2 separate regions of the Homo sapiens genome follow, and region 1 is linked to region 2. The links come from fine-mapping of genetic effects on gene expression. Tissue or cell type: prefrontal cortex. Region 2 holds a variant in brackets; the other region holds the start of a gene. All regions are shown on one strand. Distances are from middle to middle.

Region 1 (8,103 bases), 54 kb after region 2:
CCGTTTCAGCCAATAGAAACCGGACACAGCAGTAGGGTAAATGCGTCAGGTTATAAATAACCCTGTCTCCTTTGTTCAGTATACTCTTGGGACAAAACTGCTGACAAGTGTACCCTTTCAACAAAAAATAAAAACGGCCTTACTAAATAAAATAAATTAATGTTCGAATACTATTTCTTTACAGCACCAAAAAACAAACATTTCAAACATACGACATCCTGGAAATGACAAAACTACAGGAATAGTAAACAGATTAGTTGTTGCCAGGGGCTGGGAGTGAATGGAGGCGTGGACTCAAAGGGATGTGGGAGAGTAATGTAACTGGTTTATATCTTGATTGTGGTGGCAGTTACATGACTATATGTCTCTGTCATGGAACTGTATACTAAAAAGGGGATCTTACTATATGCAAATTATACCAACAAACCAACACCAAACCCATTAAAATTGTATGGTATTAGGCTAGTAGATTCTAAACCTGGTTGTATCTCAGAATCACCTGGGAATCTTCAAAACAAAGAAATGAATACCAATTCCTAGACCCCACTACAGATTTTTACCTTATTGATTCTACATTGTAAGTCCAGAAAGAGACTGGATAAATGAAAAAAATCCTGTTTTCAGCCGGGCGTGGTGGCTCACACCTGTAATCCCAGCACTTTGGGAGGCTGAGGTGGGCGGATCATGAAGTCAGGAGATCCAAGACCATCCTGGCTAACACAGTGAAACCCCGTCTCTACTAAAAATACTAAAAATTAGCTGGTCCTGGTGGTGGGTGCCTATAGTCCCAGCTACTCGAGAGGCTGAGGCAGGAGAATCGCTTGAACCTGAGAGGTGGAGCTTGCAGTGAGCCGAAACTGTGCCACTGCACTCCAGCCTGGGTGACAGAGCGAGACTCAGTCTCAAAAAAAAAAAAAAAAAAAATCCTGTTATCTCAAAGATTCTCTAATAGCTTGTAAATTGAATTGTAGAGAGAATATCTCAAGTGCTGTGTAAATATCGCTGAGCTCCAGTGAAAGCAAATGGTCATTTGGTTGCCAATCTAAGTAAGTTTTTAAAGAATATTCCTAGCATTCAAATTTAAAAGTTCAGTCTTTACAGTGTTGGTATCTAAAAATCAACCACTTTTCAATTTGACATAAAGTCAAATGCACACTGAAACAGGAATAGAATGTAAATAAACATAATGTTTTTACAAATGTTCAGGCAAGTTGTGTCATGAATGCTAATTACTGCCACTGAACTCAATACCTACTGGGAGTCAGCTTTTTGTATGAAGTTCCCAAACAGTTATTTATTCTAGAGGATTATAGCAGAGGATGCTGGGAATATTGCTTGCCGGTAGTGACCTTGGCTGGGAAAAGCCAAGGTCCACAGTACGCTGTTAAAAGTCCCACCTTTCCCCCCATAATCTTTGCTTTCCCTCTTTTCAGCTCTACTCTTTTCTTCCTCAATATGCGGAATAGAGGACATTTGAAAGATGAGAGGGCAGACGTTGAGAAGGAAGGCCTCTGGATACAGAGCAAAAAAATGAGAACTAGCTGCTCCAATTCCCTAATCTGTGCTTCCCAATGCATGCAGATGACAAATTGTTAGAATAAGAGATGGTCGGAAACCAGAATGACCCATTTCAAATGAAGGTCCTGTGTAAATAAGTGAGGGTTTGACAGCCCAGGGGGTGCTGAGTGCTAAGAAGCGTAAGGTTTAACAAGTCACCCACAGAAAGAGCTGGCTGCTCCCTCTGCTGGCAAAGTCAGTGCCTATCTGGTAAATTCTGGCTCTACAAATGGAGCCATGAAAGCACACTATTAGGTCTCATTTTAAATTCAGATGAACTTAATTTTATTTTCAGAGACAGAGTCTCACTCTGTCACCCAGGCTGGAGTGCAGTGGCGCAGTCTTGGCTCATTGCAGCCTTGACCTCCTGGGGCTCAAGGAATCTTCCTACCTCAGCTTCCTGAGTAGCGGCGGCTACAGGCTTGTGCCACCACGCTCAGCTGATTTTTGTATTTTTTTTTTTTTGTAGAGATGGGGTTTTGCCATGTTGCCTAGCCTGGCATTGAACTCCTGAGCTCAAGTGATCCGCCCACCTCAGCTTTCCAAAGTGCTGGGATTACAGGCGTGAGCCACTGCACCGGTCTCAGGAAGAATTACACAATTTTTCACAAGTGTTAAAGAGTGCTGCGTAAAGGGGACAGAACAAGAGTAAATATTTGATGATTAATTAAGATTTCCTGAAATTCTTTTCCCTGACAGATGGGTGGTATAATTCCAGGAAGTATTTCAATCTCTAGCCTAGATCTTAGGTTTGCCATTTTAAAACAAAGAGATGAATGTCTTCCACCAAGTTAATCTGTTTATGCCTTAGTCTGATCTGAGAAATGAGGATAATAATTATGCCTAACTTATACCTAACTCATTTAACTCAACTGAGTTTAAGTGATTAACTCATAAGTGAATCATTTAATGTTCATTATGAGTTAACTTGAGTTAGTTTAACACAAGTTAACCAACTTAAGAGAGTTACATGATCAACTCATTTAATGTTCAGATTCAATAAATCAAGCAAATTTCTTAGACCACTGCCTGATACATGGTAGATACTCATATTAGCTATAATGATTAGTATTCCAAAAAAGGGTGGACTGAGTGAAAGAAGCGAAACACAAAGGAATACACTCTGCACTCCAAAGTTAACCTGAAAACTTTGGAACCTTGTCGGGGGAGGTAGGACATGCCTCATTATTCCCTCCTCCCTTTTGGAATTCAGGCCCAGCTGACCAGCACTAACATTAAAACAGATCTTAAGACTGACAAAGCAGACTTTGTAGCAATAAGATACCAAATTCCAGCGGGACTCTAGTATGACATCACATGACAGATAGCAAGCCCTGAAAGTGAAGTATTTTACCCCAAATTACGTTTCTTCGCCATATCTTGAAATAGTCCTGCAAAGCTAAAGCTATCTCTTGTGGGGAAAATCTACATTCTGAAGAGAATCCCCTTCCTTTTCTAGGCCTTTTTCCTGATTCAGGAGAGAATCAACTCTGATAAGAAACATTTACAATTTATTCTCTCAATAGACTGCTACCTGGAGACTTCCTCTGCCTAAGGGAAATCTTGGTCTCCTCAACCTCTTATCTTAATGCAGACATTCCCTTCTTTTTTCAGTTTTTTTTTTTTTTTTTGAGATAGTCTCGCTCTGTCGCCCAGGCTGGAGTGATCTCGGCTCACTGCAACCTCTGCCTCTCAGGTTCAAGCTATTCTCCTGCCTCGGCCTCCCGAGTAGCTGGGGTTACAGGCTCCTAGCACCACGCCTGGCTTTTTTTTTTTTTCTTTTGTATTTTTAGTAGAGGTGGCTTTTCACCTGTTAGCCAGGCTGGTCTCGAACTCCTGACCTCAGGTGATCCACCCGCCTTGGCCTCCCAAAGTGCTGGGATTACAGGCGTGAGCCACCGTGCTAAACCGCCTTCTATTAATTCTATCTGCAGCCACAAGTCCTTATATAATCCAGACATTCCCTTCTGTGGATTCCAGGTGTTTGGACAAAACTTTAAATCAATTGTTCATCAGAAAATCTTTGAATCTTAACTATGACCTGGAAACCACTCCCCCTCCCCCAGTAGTCTCACCTCTCCAGATGGAACCAATGTATGTCTTGTATGTACTGATTGACATCTTATGTCTCTCCAGAAGCACACATTCTCAGGATTTCCCAAGAGCTGTATCAGAGGCCATTGGTCACTCATATTTGCCTCAGTATAAATCTCTACAAATATTTTAGCGTTTGACTCTTTTCAGCACAGGTAGAAAAATTAAATATTGTTTCTTTTTTACATACTTAGTTTCACCCCAAAGCTCATTAGATTCCCTAACACTATGTAGGTTCTATTTATTCTGAAGAAGGAGCTTGACCTGACTCACATTATTTACTAGCTGAAAGGCACATTTACCTGCGTTGAACTCGGGATCGTCTTCCAGGGCGACGACAGCTCCCTCTACGGCATCCACGGCGCTCCCGCCCTCCCGGAGGATGCCGTAGCCCACGGTGGCGGCTCTGACCATGCCCTGGTGCACTCGCTCCTTCCGATCCTTGGAGATGGGACCGGCTCCGCCGCCGTGGACCACTACGATGGGATTCATGTCGGCGGATCCTAGGCAGCAGGAAGGCGAAAGCGTCGTCCAAAGCCAGCCCAAGGAAGCCGCGCGGGTACAAGGTCCTCGGGAGACCCTGTGGGGACAATGCCCAGTCTCTGTTCTGAACGGCTGGGTTCGCAGCTGGGGGTGGGTAGGGGCGGCTCGGTCGAGCTTGGTACGAAAAGCCCAGGGGCCCGGCGCCCTCCCGCGTTCCTCTCCGCCCCCGGCCCGGACCTGCTGGGGGTCTCAGTTTCCCCGGGGACGTTAACCCGCGCCCACCGCCGCCCGCCTCCAAGCCCCGGCGCCGAAGGAGGATGTCTATTTCGCCTTCGGGAAAATGTCTATTTTCGTTTATTTCATTCGCCCTCCCGCGTCTCGGGCGGCTGCTCCGGGAGGGCCGCCGACTTACCCAGGGCACCGCAGGACGCGGACGCCGAGACCTCAAGCTGGGTCGAGCCAGCCCCGCAGCCGCCCGGTACCGCCGCTCCCCGACGCCGGCTCGAAACCGCTCAGCCCGCAACCGCTCTGGTCACAACGGTTCTGCGCCTGCGCACGAGGGCGGGACCGCCGCACGGCCCAGTTCCCATAAAGCCCCGAAGGCCGGCTGGCGCGCACCTGTCTCACTCCTCTCAAGAGTCTACGCTCTTGGCCGGCCCGAGCTTCCTGGTGGCACGCGGGGAACCTCCTGCTCCTGACCAGGCTAGGGGCTGGGTGGTTGGGTTGGTGGCGAGAAGCGTGAAGTGGCATGCCACGATTTTGTAATTGCAGATTGAAAAGCAACGCTAGGCTGTGCGCAGTGGCTCATGCCTTGTAATCCCAGCACTTTGAGAGGCCGAGGCGGACGGATCACCTGAGGTCGGGAGTTCGAGACCAGCCTGACCAACACGGAGAAACCCTGTCCCTACTAAAAACACAAAATTAGCTGGGCGTGGTGGCGCATGCCTGTAATCCCAGCTACTCTGGAGGCTAAGGCACGAGAATCGTTTGAACCTGGGAGGCGGAGGTTGCGGTGAGTGGAAATCGCGCCATTGCACTCCAGCCTGGGCAACAAGAGTGAAACTCCGAATCAAAAGAAAAAAAAATTATACTGGGACAATGGGCATAAACAGGGACAGATCCAGGCAAACTGTGATTGATCTCCTGTGGATAGGAGAGTCCTTTCCCTTCTTGTTTACCCACAACTGATAACATATTTTACCACTCTTGGGAATTCCCTTTACTCCTGTTTTACCTTCGTTTCCTGCCTTAAGGCCCAGTTTAAATGAACCCCTCCTGCAAAGCCTTCTCCCTGGCACCCCACTAAGGATCAGTCATTCCCTTTCTAGTGACCTATTGTTAGAGATTACCACAAATTTATTGGCTTCAAACAACACACATTATCTTACAGTTCTGGTGGTCAGAAATTCAAACTGGGTCTGCAGGGTTGAGTTCCTTCGGGAAGCTCCAGAAGAGAATCTGTCTTTTCTTGCTTCTACAAGCTGCCTGTATCCTTGGCTCATGGCCTCATCCTCCATTGCCAAAGCCAACAGCCTAGCATCTTTAACTCTCTCTCCCTCTGGCCTGTTTCTGCTGCTACGTCACTTCTCTCTCTGTCACCATCATCACGATTTTCTTTTCTGACTCTGACTCTCCTGCCTCCTTCTTAAAGGAAGTCCCTTGGGATGACATTGGGCCCACCCAGATAACCCAGGATAATCTCCCTTTCTTACAATTTCTATTCTCATCTGCAAAGTCCCTTTTGCCATGTGAGGAGTGTTCACAGGTGGAGATTCGGATGTGACACCTTTGAGGGCCGTTATTCTGTCTCCCACACTCACCTCTTGGAAGAGGGTTATTTTAGCACGTCTCAACTGGTCGTGAGCCTAGTTGTGTCATCATAATACAGCTCACCATCATTTGGTTTCAGCTATTTATAGGAACCTGAACCCTACCCTATGCCTAGCCCTAACTCAAACCCCATCTCTACTGTTTTTCCTGATTGATCTGGAATTCAGTGATCTGGCTGAGGCTGGGGAAGGTGGCTGGTGGCCCAAGCAGGTAGAATGTTGGTTTCCATTTGATCCTCCCATCTCAGCCTCATGCGTTTATCTACTTCTCTGATGGGCTTCGTATTCCCCATCCCAATCCAAAGTCTCTTAGATAAATTCTCTAGAAAATAAACTTCTGGTCTTTGAGGAGGAAAGAGGAAGCATCTTTTTGTCCGGCTCTGTGGGATAGGAGAAGGAATCTGGCTAACTCCTCTGTAGACGATGTTCCATCAACAATCATTTTATGGATTAAGGATTGTATTCAACTGTCCCTGACGAAACGTGACCACAGTGGTTTAACCAGATAACTGTTGATTTGAAAACAACAATAACAACAACAACAACAACAACAACAACAAGACATCTAGTGGTTGCTGCCCAGGCTGGTGCAGCAGCTCCAAGGTGACACAGATGTCCCATCTCCTTCTCTTCCCTTCAGCATGTGGCTTTCACATTTATGGTGCTCCTAGGCACCTTGATCACTATTGGGGCAGAAGGAATGGGGAAGGGCAAAGGGAAGAAGGCTTTTGCCAGCTCCCCTTTGTTCCTTTAATTCAGGAAAGCTCTCTAGCTTTCCTAGAAGTCCTCCAAGTGGACTTTTATTGGCCAGAACTGGATTGGGGGGCTGCCCCTAGTGGCAAGAGAGTCTGAGTTTTTATTTTAGCAGGGTACATCATGGCCCTGGATAAAATCAAGGTCTCTTGGCAAGAAGGAAGGGTGACAGGCTATTGGAGAGACAACTGGGAACACCTGCCACTCCTGCCTCCCCATCTTTGAGATTCCTGTGTGTCTAAGCCCTGAGTCTCTCAAGCGTTCTCCAGAACAAATGGATTCACCTCTCAAGTAGATTACAACTTCCTTTAATCTGCCATTTGTTATTCATCTTCCAAAGTGACCTTTTTTACCTGCCATTGTCATCTCTCCCATTCTTCCTGTCTTTGTGGGTAGTATTCTTTTTAAGATTGTTTACTATCATTTTAGAGGGATTTTTGAAGGGAGGAGTAACCCATTTGTGTGACTGGGGAGGTTGACTAGAGCCCCAAGGAAGTGATTCTAACTACAGTGGCTCTGGATGTTCTAGGAGGAGGAGGGTTGGGTTAGGGAATGCCAGAGTTGGGGAGAGGAGGTGGGACCAGAAAAGGAGGGACTGGGCAGGGACTGGGCATTTCTGGGTCAGAAATGAAGGAGGCATATTAGAGAGATTGACGAAGAAGAAATGGGGGTGGGAGGGAGGAAGAGAAGAAAAAAAGAAAGAAGCAACTAACATTTCCTTCCTTTCCTTCCCTTCCTTCCCTTTCTTTCCTTTCTTTCTTTCTTCTTTGAGACGGAGTCTCGCTCTGTTGCCCAGGCTGGAGTATAGTGGTGCGATCTTGGCTGACTATAATCTCCATCTCCCGAGGCTCAGACATGATTCTCCTGCTTCAGCCACCCAAGTATCTGGGATTACAGGCATGCACCACCACGCCCAGCTAATTTTTGTATTTTTAGTAGGGATGGGATTTCAACATCTTGGCTACGCTGGTCTCGAACTCCTGACCTCAAGCGATTTGCCCACCTTGGCCTCCCAAAGTGCTGGGATTACAGGTGTGAGCCACTACACCTGGCCGCAACTAACATTTTCTGAAGGTCCACTGGGGAACTGGCAGGCTGCCTTTACTACGTTCTTACTGCCTAGCAACTTCCCATCCCCACCAGTCTCAGCTACATGAGGAAAAGGCTTTTGGCTGACCCCACTGGGGGCAGGATGGGAATCTGTGAGACTCCCTCCAAATTCTAGAATGTGTAACAGTATCTTGAGCCTGCCACCTTCCTATCTTGAGCTTCGCTTTCAAACAAGAAGCGGGACACATACGTTTCAACTCTGAGATCCCTGAGCTTATTTAGGAGATTTAGTACCCATGAATTTGTTCAGGAACGGGGCCTGAGGCTGTTTTTAGGA
Region 2 (8,103 bases):
AATCCAAATGCAGTGATGGTTTTGTGCAAAGATGAAGGCTGATGGGAGGACTTCAGAGGAGCAGGTGGGGGGCGGGAAGAACGAGTGTCCCTTCCCAGCCTTCCCCACACACCATCACCTCTGACAACAGGACACTGAAGGGGACTAACGTGTGCCCCACTCCTTCCTTTGGTCTCAGAGTTTACAATCCCTCAAGCTAGAGAGGAAGAAGTCTAGGAATATTATTTGAGAAAAATGTGTATTATGCAACAGCTACGAGATCAAGGCCCTTCCTTACCCAGGACTCTTCTCTGCAGCCCAGCAGTGGGGCTGAGTCCTGACTGCAGCAACTCCTGCTTGGGGACACTTGGCCTTGGCTCAGGGCCCGTCTTGTGCTCCTTATTATCCCACCATTTTGGTGGGTGAGCCACATGACGATGTATCTGTCTTCCTGGCTGGAAGGAGCAAGTGGGGGCGGGGCCGGGCTGCCAGAGCTTGTTCACCGTGGGATCTGGCATCCGGCATCTGGCAGCGCCCAGGGCAGAGCGAGCTTCCACTGTTGATCTGGGTGGGTTCTTCGGGCCATTTGCTAGCGTTTGTGTTTTGGACAATTCTGCTCTAAAATAAATTGTAGTATTTGGACGAAAATGAAGGTCAGGAAGAGGAATGTTCTTTTGGTTCCAAATTTTCTAAATAGACTGCTCTGATCCAGATAGAGTACCTTCCCTTTGGGCGGCTGAAGCCATGGATAGTTTATAGTTTGCTGCCCTCTTGTGGCACAGAAGTGATAAAAAGATTGTCTTCCCCTTTCAGATGCTGTCAGGCTCATTTCTCTGTTTGACAGTGAGCCATGGACAAGCTGTGGGGCAAAAGCAAGAACTGTACGTGGTCTCCATTTACAGAACTCCCAGGCTGGTGGAGGTGGCTTTTGGTACAACTCAGGTCTGAGGGCAAAAATACACACTTTGGCTTTGCACAAAGGGGCTGACGACCCCATACGTACCCTAGCACCTGGGCTGCCCAGCTAAAGAGGTCAAGTGGCCACAAGCTGAGCCTACGGTAATCTTTAATAACTAGAGTAAATTTCCTTGTGAACTGGAGAATTGGTAAGACAAGCTCAAAACCAGATCTTCCAACTGGCCTCCCTATCCCCCAGCTCCCTCCTTCCTTTTTTCTATCTCCTTAGCGATTGTTGTCTTCTCCAAAGGGTCTCCCCTTTCCAAACCCCAACATGATTCTGTTTTGCCTCCTGTTATGGACTGAATTCTGTCCTCTCCCAAATTCACATGCTGAAGCCCTAACCCCCAGTACCTCAGCATGTGAGTGTATTTGGAGACAGGGCCTTTGAAGAGGTGATTAAGGTTAAATGAGGTCATTAGGGTGGACCTTAATCTAATATTATAATTTACATATTATATATAATATATATTATAAATTATAAATTATATATCATATATTTTTATATAATATATAATATATACAATATATGATATATAATATATAGTATATAATATATAACAAATTATATATAATACATAAAATATATAATATTATATATCATATATTATATATAATAGTATATATATTTATATGATATATAATATATATGTATTATATAAATGTTATATATTTTATTATATATAATATATATGTAAATTATAATATATATTATATATTGTATAAATTATAATATATAATAAATATACCATATTAGATATATTGTAACTTATATATTATATAATTTATATATTATAATATATAAATTATATCTAATATGGTGTCCTCATAAGAAGAGGGGATTAGGACATATAGAGACAGATGGCAGGGCTGTGCACGTACAGAGGAAAGACCATGTGAGGACACAGTGAGAAGATGGCCAGCTATTACACAAGCCATGGAGAGAGGCCTCGGGAGACACCAACGTGGCCGACACCTTGATCTTGGACTTTTAGCCTCCAGAGCTGAGAAAATATTAATAAATTTCTGTTGGTTAAGTCACTTAGTCTGTGGAATCGTGTTGTGGCAATCTTCAACTAATACACCTCCTAATAAAATACTTGTTTCTAAAGGGGGAGTTGTTGCATGTTGAGGTTTTTACTGTGCACCTCTGTCTGGGGTGAATGCTGGCAAACTGCAGGAAGACTGCGCCATAAACCCTATCATGGTTTGGCTTCTTCCTTGACCCACTCAGAAAAAGTTCAGTTCTTCTGAAAAACTCACGAGTACTCCACAAGGTGGCACATATCACCCTCCACACCATCCTCATCTCGAGGTCTCTGTAGTACACCTGAGACCAAGGGGGGAGCTCGTGTACATTCTGGTCTTTGTCAACAGTGACTCCCAACCACACCCTTATTCTTTCAAAATATATTTTATTAGCGGCACATGGAATGTCAAGTTAAGCAAATTCTTTCCAGAGAGAAGGTGAGCCTGACAGACTAAAACGTTGAGCACGGATGATACAGCAGAAATAACATTTCCAGTGTAATGAGAGATAAAGAGGAATACTGCCCACCGAGGAAATGACTTTCTTCACCATGCTGACCACACTGCACAGCGCCCGATCCGGCTGGTGAGGATGGGGAGGTGGGAAGAATCTCAAAGCACTGGACAGGGTGAGGACTCAGGAAGTCACGGGGTCAGCCCTACAGCATCAGCTCCTCTCTGTTGTTGGAGAGGCCCTGAGCCCCATTACTCACTATACGAGGACCAGAGTGTCTTTGGCAGGTGGAGGCTGGCTCACGGGAGAACACCAAGTGAGGGGGCTCCTCTGTGAACCCAAGAAACTTCAAGGAACCCCACAGCGTCTCCCTTATGACCTCCCATCTCCAGATTAGGAAGCTATGGATTCCCAGAGGGTCCTTTGGAAGTATCTAGAAATGTCCAGGTAAGTCAGAGAAGGGCTGAACTTTCTTAGAAAAATCACTTTAGTCTCTCATACATGAAGAACATTTTCCTTAAAGGATTCTGGTTCTTTTCCCTGATGTTCTTGTGCAACGTTCTGAGGGTCACCTGGGCTTCGCCCACCACTGCTTCTACTGCTGCTGTGTCACTTTCAAACAGCTCCACCTCCACCGGCCCCTCCCTTCCCACCTTCCAGCCCACAGTGTCTGCAGGCTGTGGGTCTCCCACATCTGTCATGTCAGGATCATGCTGCTGCTTTCTTTCTTTTTTCCCTTTTCTTTTTTTTTT[TTTTTTTG/G]ATACAGGGCCTGGCTCTGTTGCCCAGGCTGGAGTGCAGTGGAGTAATCATGGCTCACCTCAGCTTTGACCTCCTGGGCTCAAGTAATCCTCCTAATACGGGCATTTCTCTCATCGCTTCAGAACCCGCCCCACAACCAAACATTCAGATGCTTATTAAGGCAACAAAACAAGTGACAGACGGGACAATTTTTCCAATTCTAGATCTAATTGATTAGGCTATGTCTCATGAGGAGACTGTACTTGACCTCTAAGCTAGCATCTGGAATACAATCTTCCAGCGGCTTAGGGAAGGTCGGTGATAGTAGTATCGTCAGGATCAATTCCGAAGTGCAGCTTGCCGTCCTTGGCGGCTGCCCAGGGCATGGAGGTGGAGGTCCACTTTGCCACCCAGTCTCCTGTTTTGCTAACCACGATGAGGCCACCTAAACCTTTAACCCTTGACTTCATATAACCCAACGATAGGTCCGCAGCCTCTTCTACCGTCTTTCCTGAAAACAAGGAAGGGTTGAGAAACAACACACATTACTGAAAGGAATCTCATGGGAAAATCACTTGCCATTTGAAATGCCAAAGTGAGCTAGCAAGGATTTTTGGTAAATGAACGCCTGAATGCTTAAAAGGAGGGTCCTCACCTCCTTGCCCTGAGACAGCGCCCTAGCATCAGCCTGAGCAGAGGGGTCTTCCCTCCCACATCCAGGCTCAATGTCTCTCTACTGCCCCCTTCTCCTGAGATGTGGAAGATAACAGTACTCAATGCTCTACCATTCCAGACCTAAGGGAAGGCGGAGAGTCAAAACAAGGTGTTAACGGCCTGAAAGCAACATCTGTAGCCAACAGGAAAGGGTTTCCTACACTTCTCCATGCGCTTACTTATCAAATACCTTCTATGCACTTATCTTCACAAATTATTTTACTTGTCCTGTGGTCTGTGTACCTTGTTCTATGTGGAACAGGGTGAGTCTAGCCAGGTTCACCTTCAGGATGCTTTCCCCATGCCCTGTGGTTGAGACGGCTCCGATGTCATTGTCGGCATAACCTCCAGCTCCTGCTCAAAAAGGGTGATTGTTCTGAGCAGTAACAGTCAAGAAATTCAAATCCATATTAGAAGTCGGACGCTACATGAAAGTTAAATCGCGAAGGGTGCTCAAGTACCGACAAAGGTCAGGTTAGTAGCCATGATCTGCGGAGGCAAAGGTGGACTAGAAAGCGTCATGTAGATGCCCCAGAATTTAGGAGGATAAAGGGAGCCTCAGAGGGGCAGGCCTGACCTTTCACAGAGCAGCTACAGCAGGACAGCATCTCCTTGGCCCCAAAGCACAGCCATTCCTTTTTGCTCAATGAAGCCACCCTCTCCCTGTCTCCTCCTCATGCCCCACACACTATGGAGGAAGAAACAGCATGACTGCATTATATGGATCTCTAGCAAGGCCATCATGTTCCAGTGATTTGGGGAAAATGATACCCACAACCTAACATCCATGCACACTGTCTAATGGAGGGCAGTTATATTTGTTGAGGGTGGGCATAATTGGACCTGAGGGAACTATTCTGGGCTATCCACTTAAGTGGGGGTCTGGAGTGAAAGCTACTTTGATAAGATTTCTTCCTTATTTTGGGCTTGGATTAAGCAACCTTACAGCCTTCTCTGAGTCATTCTTGTATCTGTTCACACACAGCTACCAGCCTCAGAGTCCTTTAGCCTTGGAAGGATTCGCCTTTACCCTCCCACAGTTGATACAGAAGCACAGAAGATTGACATTTGCCTTACTTATTGATGCTGGACATGGGGCAAGGACTCAGGAGTTGAGATGCTGCATTGGATTGTCACAAGGCCCCAGAGGTTCTCAAAGGCAGATAATCCCTGGCTCTGGTTCTGGAGGGAGCTGACACTGGACAGCCAATGAACTGCTGCAGTGGGAGGAGGCGCCTTTACTTTTTCTTATAAGCTTCTGCTGGGGAATTAACTGACCGGGTTCCATGGTGTCAAAGTGCCCTAATATTTGGAAGCAGCCAAGTCTTTGCTTACTTTTCAGTTACTCTAGGACCACAGAAGGCCAGGTGTCTCCAAGGGTGGTCCTGGCACAGGCATCGGGCGTGTGAAGCTGTCCTCCCCGCCACATGCACTTCTCAGGACAAGTGCATTGCCTGAGGTGACCACTGCTGAGCCTAGTACCGTCCCCCATGACTGTCCAGGCAGGGGCCTGGCCAGTGGCAGTGCTCCTTGGGGAGGCTCCTCAGAAGGCCAGGCAGAGCACACCTGGTGCTCACAGCTGGACAGAGAGTTCTGAGAATTTAGCTTATGCCTTTTCTTGTCAAGATTTACCACTGTAACTCAAGCTTAAAATTAATTTCTAGGATCTAACCTGGAGTGGCCCTGTGGCCTGGTCTGAACGCAGCTGAAGCAAGCTGCACTACTGACCAGGCACAGTTTGGTGGGATTTTTGCCAAGGAGAAAGAAAGGTAGACTACTTCACATCTCTTGGGTGATATACCAAGGAGAAGAGGAGTTACCAAGCCTCTACTCTTTTTAAGGAAGCTTCCAGTGTCTCTGAGTTCATGACAGAAAAAGGGTATCAAGAATTGTCGAGAGTGTAGATTATTACTAAAGACTAGAGCAACACATTAAAAAGGGAAGGTAGGGCTAGTTTTCCTCTAAAAGAATAAGCTGCTCTTTAGGGCAGATGGAACAATTTAGCTGCTTCTCAAAACTTCAGTCACCTGTGGGGGTTCATGAGGATTCCTGCATGACAAGTGTGAAAGTCTGCACGGAGTGAAACATACAGCCCCCCAGCCCTGCCTCTCACCCACTCCTGGGAATGAGATGGCGTGCTTCCCCGTTAATGTAAACAACATCTCAATCTATAATGTGTCTGTAGAAGTATGTCACTTTCATGCTGCTCAGATCTAACAACTGCAGTCTCAGATTTCTCAGATTGCTAATCAGAGCCCATGTCTCGGGAGTAAGTCTTACTCAAGTAAGTCTGCAGATCCTGAAACTGTGGCTAAAGAGAAGACAGAATCACGACAGGGTAGACTGGGGGCAACGTTAGCATCCCTGTCTCCACTTCTCTCCCCAAGTTGTTCCAAAAAGGCATGCAATCTAGTAAAAACAGTGGCGCCAGATACAAACACCCTCTCAAGGCAGCACCCCGAACAACCCCTTCCAACCCCATTGTCACTCCCAGACATCCTGGAGCTGCACCAAAAGCAGAAAGGGAACGCAGCAAGAAACGGAGAGGGGCAGGGAATAGAGAGTGAGGAAAGCCTGAGGGCGGGAGAAGAGGGGAAGGGGCAGGAGGCATCCCTTGGTCCTACCTAGACACGGTGAGTCCCCAACGCGGCCGACCATTTTATTAACGATACCGCCTGTGGAGGTTGCGTAGGCTACATTCCCTTTGCAGTCCAAGGCAACAGCACCCACGGTTCCCAAGTTTCTGCCAAAAATAAACAGAAAAAAAGTGACAGGCTGAAAATGAGAATGAACACCATAACCAACAATGTACCTTAAAACCACTTAAAGTTTCATGTTATATGTTGATGGGGCACCCATTTAATTCCAACATTCTAGAAAGAACCTGCTGCTTCTCATTCTACGTGTAAGTTACAGGTGGATTGCTGGACACTCCTCCACACCTCAGCTTTAAGAGTACATCCAATCCCAACACCACCGTTTTCTAGCTGTGATGCTAAGTTTTATTTTGTGTCTCTTTGTCCCCATCATAAAATGGGGATAAAAGTAAGAGTGCTTCTCAAACTTTAGTGTGTATAAGAATTCCTGGGGTGCTTGGGCCCACAGAGACTCTGAAGCTGCCACCAAGAGGAGAAAGGAAAGGAAAAAGTGACTTGGTAGATACAGGCTGGGACCCAAAATCCTGCTTTTTTTTTTTTTTTTTTTTTGAGATGAAGTCTCACTTTGTCGCCCAGGCTGCAGTGCAGTGGCACAATCTTGGCTCACGGCAACCTCTGCCTCCCGGGTTCAAGTGATTCTCCTGCCTCAGCCTCCCAAGTAGCTGGGACTACAGGCATGCACCACCACACCTGGGTAATTTTTATATTTTTAGTAGAGACAGGGTTTCATCATCATCTTGGCCAGGCTGGTCTCAAACCTCTGAGCTCAGGTGATACGCCTGCCTTGGACTCCCAAAGTGCTGGGGTTACAGGCGTGAGCCACTGTGCCTGGCTGATCCTGCGTTTCTGACAACCTCCCGGGTGTCGCTGATGCTGCCTGCCTATGGACCCTGTGCATGGGGTTGTCGTAAAGATCAAATCCGTTAATTTTCCCCTAACATTTTATTATGAATTCTCGAATACAGTCATGTGCCACCTATGATGTTTTGATCAACAGACTGCATATAGGATGGTGGTCCCATGAGATTATAATCCTCTATTTTTACTGTACTTCTATGTTTAGATACACAAGTACTTACCATTGTGTGACAACTGCCTAGAGGATTCAGGACAGTCACATGCTGCACAGGTGTGTAGCGTAGCAGCAACAGGCCGGACCACATAGCCTAGATGTGTATTAGTCTCTCCTATCTGGGTTTGTGTGAGTGCACCCCTATGATGTTTGCATGGCCATGAAATTGCCCAACTATGCATTTCTCAGGATGCATTTCTTGTCCTGTCATGAGACGCGTGACTGTAACACAGTTGAACAAATTGTACACGAACACCCCAGCATACCCACCAGCAAGGTTCTATAATGAATTATATTTGAGGCATTGTTTTAAGTGCTGGGACACAGTGGTAAAGCTAAACAAAGTCCTTTCTCCCATGGAGCCTGCATTTGGGGTAGAGGGTGGTAGTAACAGGGCAATAATATGTCAGGTGACAAAAACAAAACAAAAAAACAAAAAACCCAAACAAAAAAACAAAGAAGCACCAGGGAAGAGTGATGGTGGGGAGGTGCTGTTTTACACA

Alleles and levels. Alleles are on the strand shown, and positions count from the first base shown. SD is a standard deviation of normalised expression in the study named.
With allele TTTTTTTG in place of G in region 2, the expression in prefrontal cortex of the gene that starts at base 4,673 in region 1 is higher (small effect, 0.33 SD a copy in ROSMAP).

Evidence for each region. PIP is the estimated chance that this variant, and not a neighbour inherited with it, causes the effect.
Region 1: it holds the start of ASRGL1, and the variant in region 2 is fine-mapped to the expression of ASRGL1 in prefrontal cortex (ROSMAP, PIP 0.95).

What each region holds. Positions count from the first base shown.
Region 1 is chr11:62,334,018-62,342,120 of GRCh38, reverse strand. It overlaps ASRGL1 (asparaginase and isoaspartyl peptidase 1), which reads right to left and starts at 4,673. Exons shown (of 7, transcript NM_001083926.2): 1 at 4,547-4,673; 2 at 3,954-4,231. The coding sequence starts at 4,143. RefSeq lists an enhancer at 4,093-4,762.
Region 2 is chr11:62,387,644-62,395,746 of GRCh38, reverse strand. It overlaps ASRGL1 (asparaginase and isoaspartyl peptidase 1), which reads right to left. Exons shown (of 7, transcript NM_001083926.2): 5 at 6,496-6,614; 6 at 4,115-4,225; 7 at 2,335-3,668. The coding sequence ends at 3,463. Among named protein-coding and RNA genes, the nearest start is that of SCGB1A1, 27 kb to the left of the region's middle. RefSeq lists enhancers at 647-696, 807-876. The variant TTTTTTTG/G (reference allele first, on the strand shown) is at 3,172.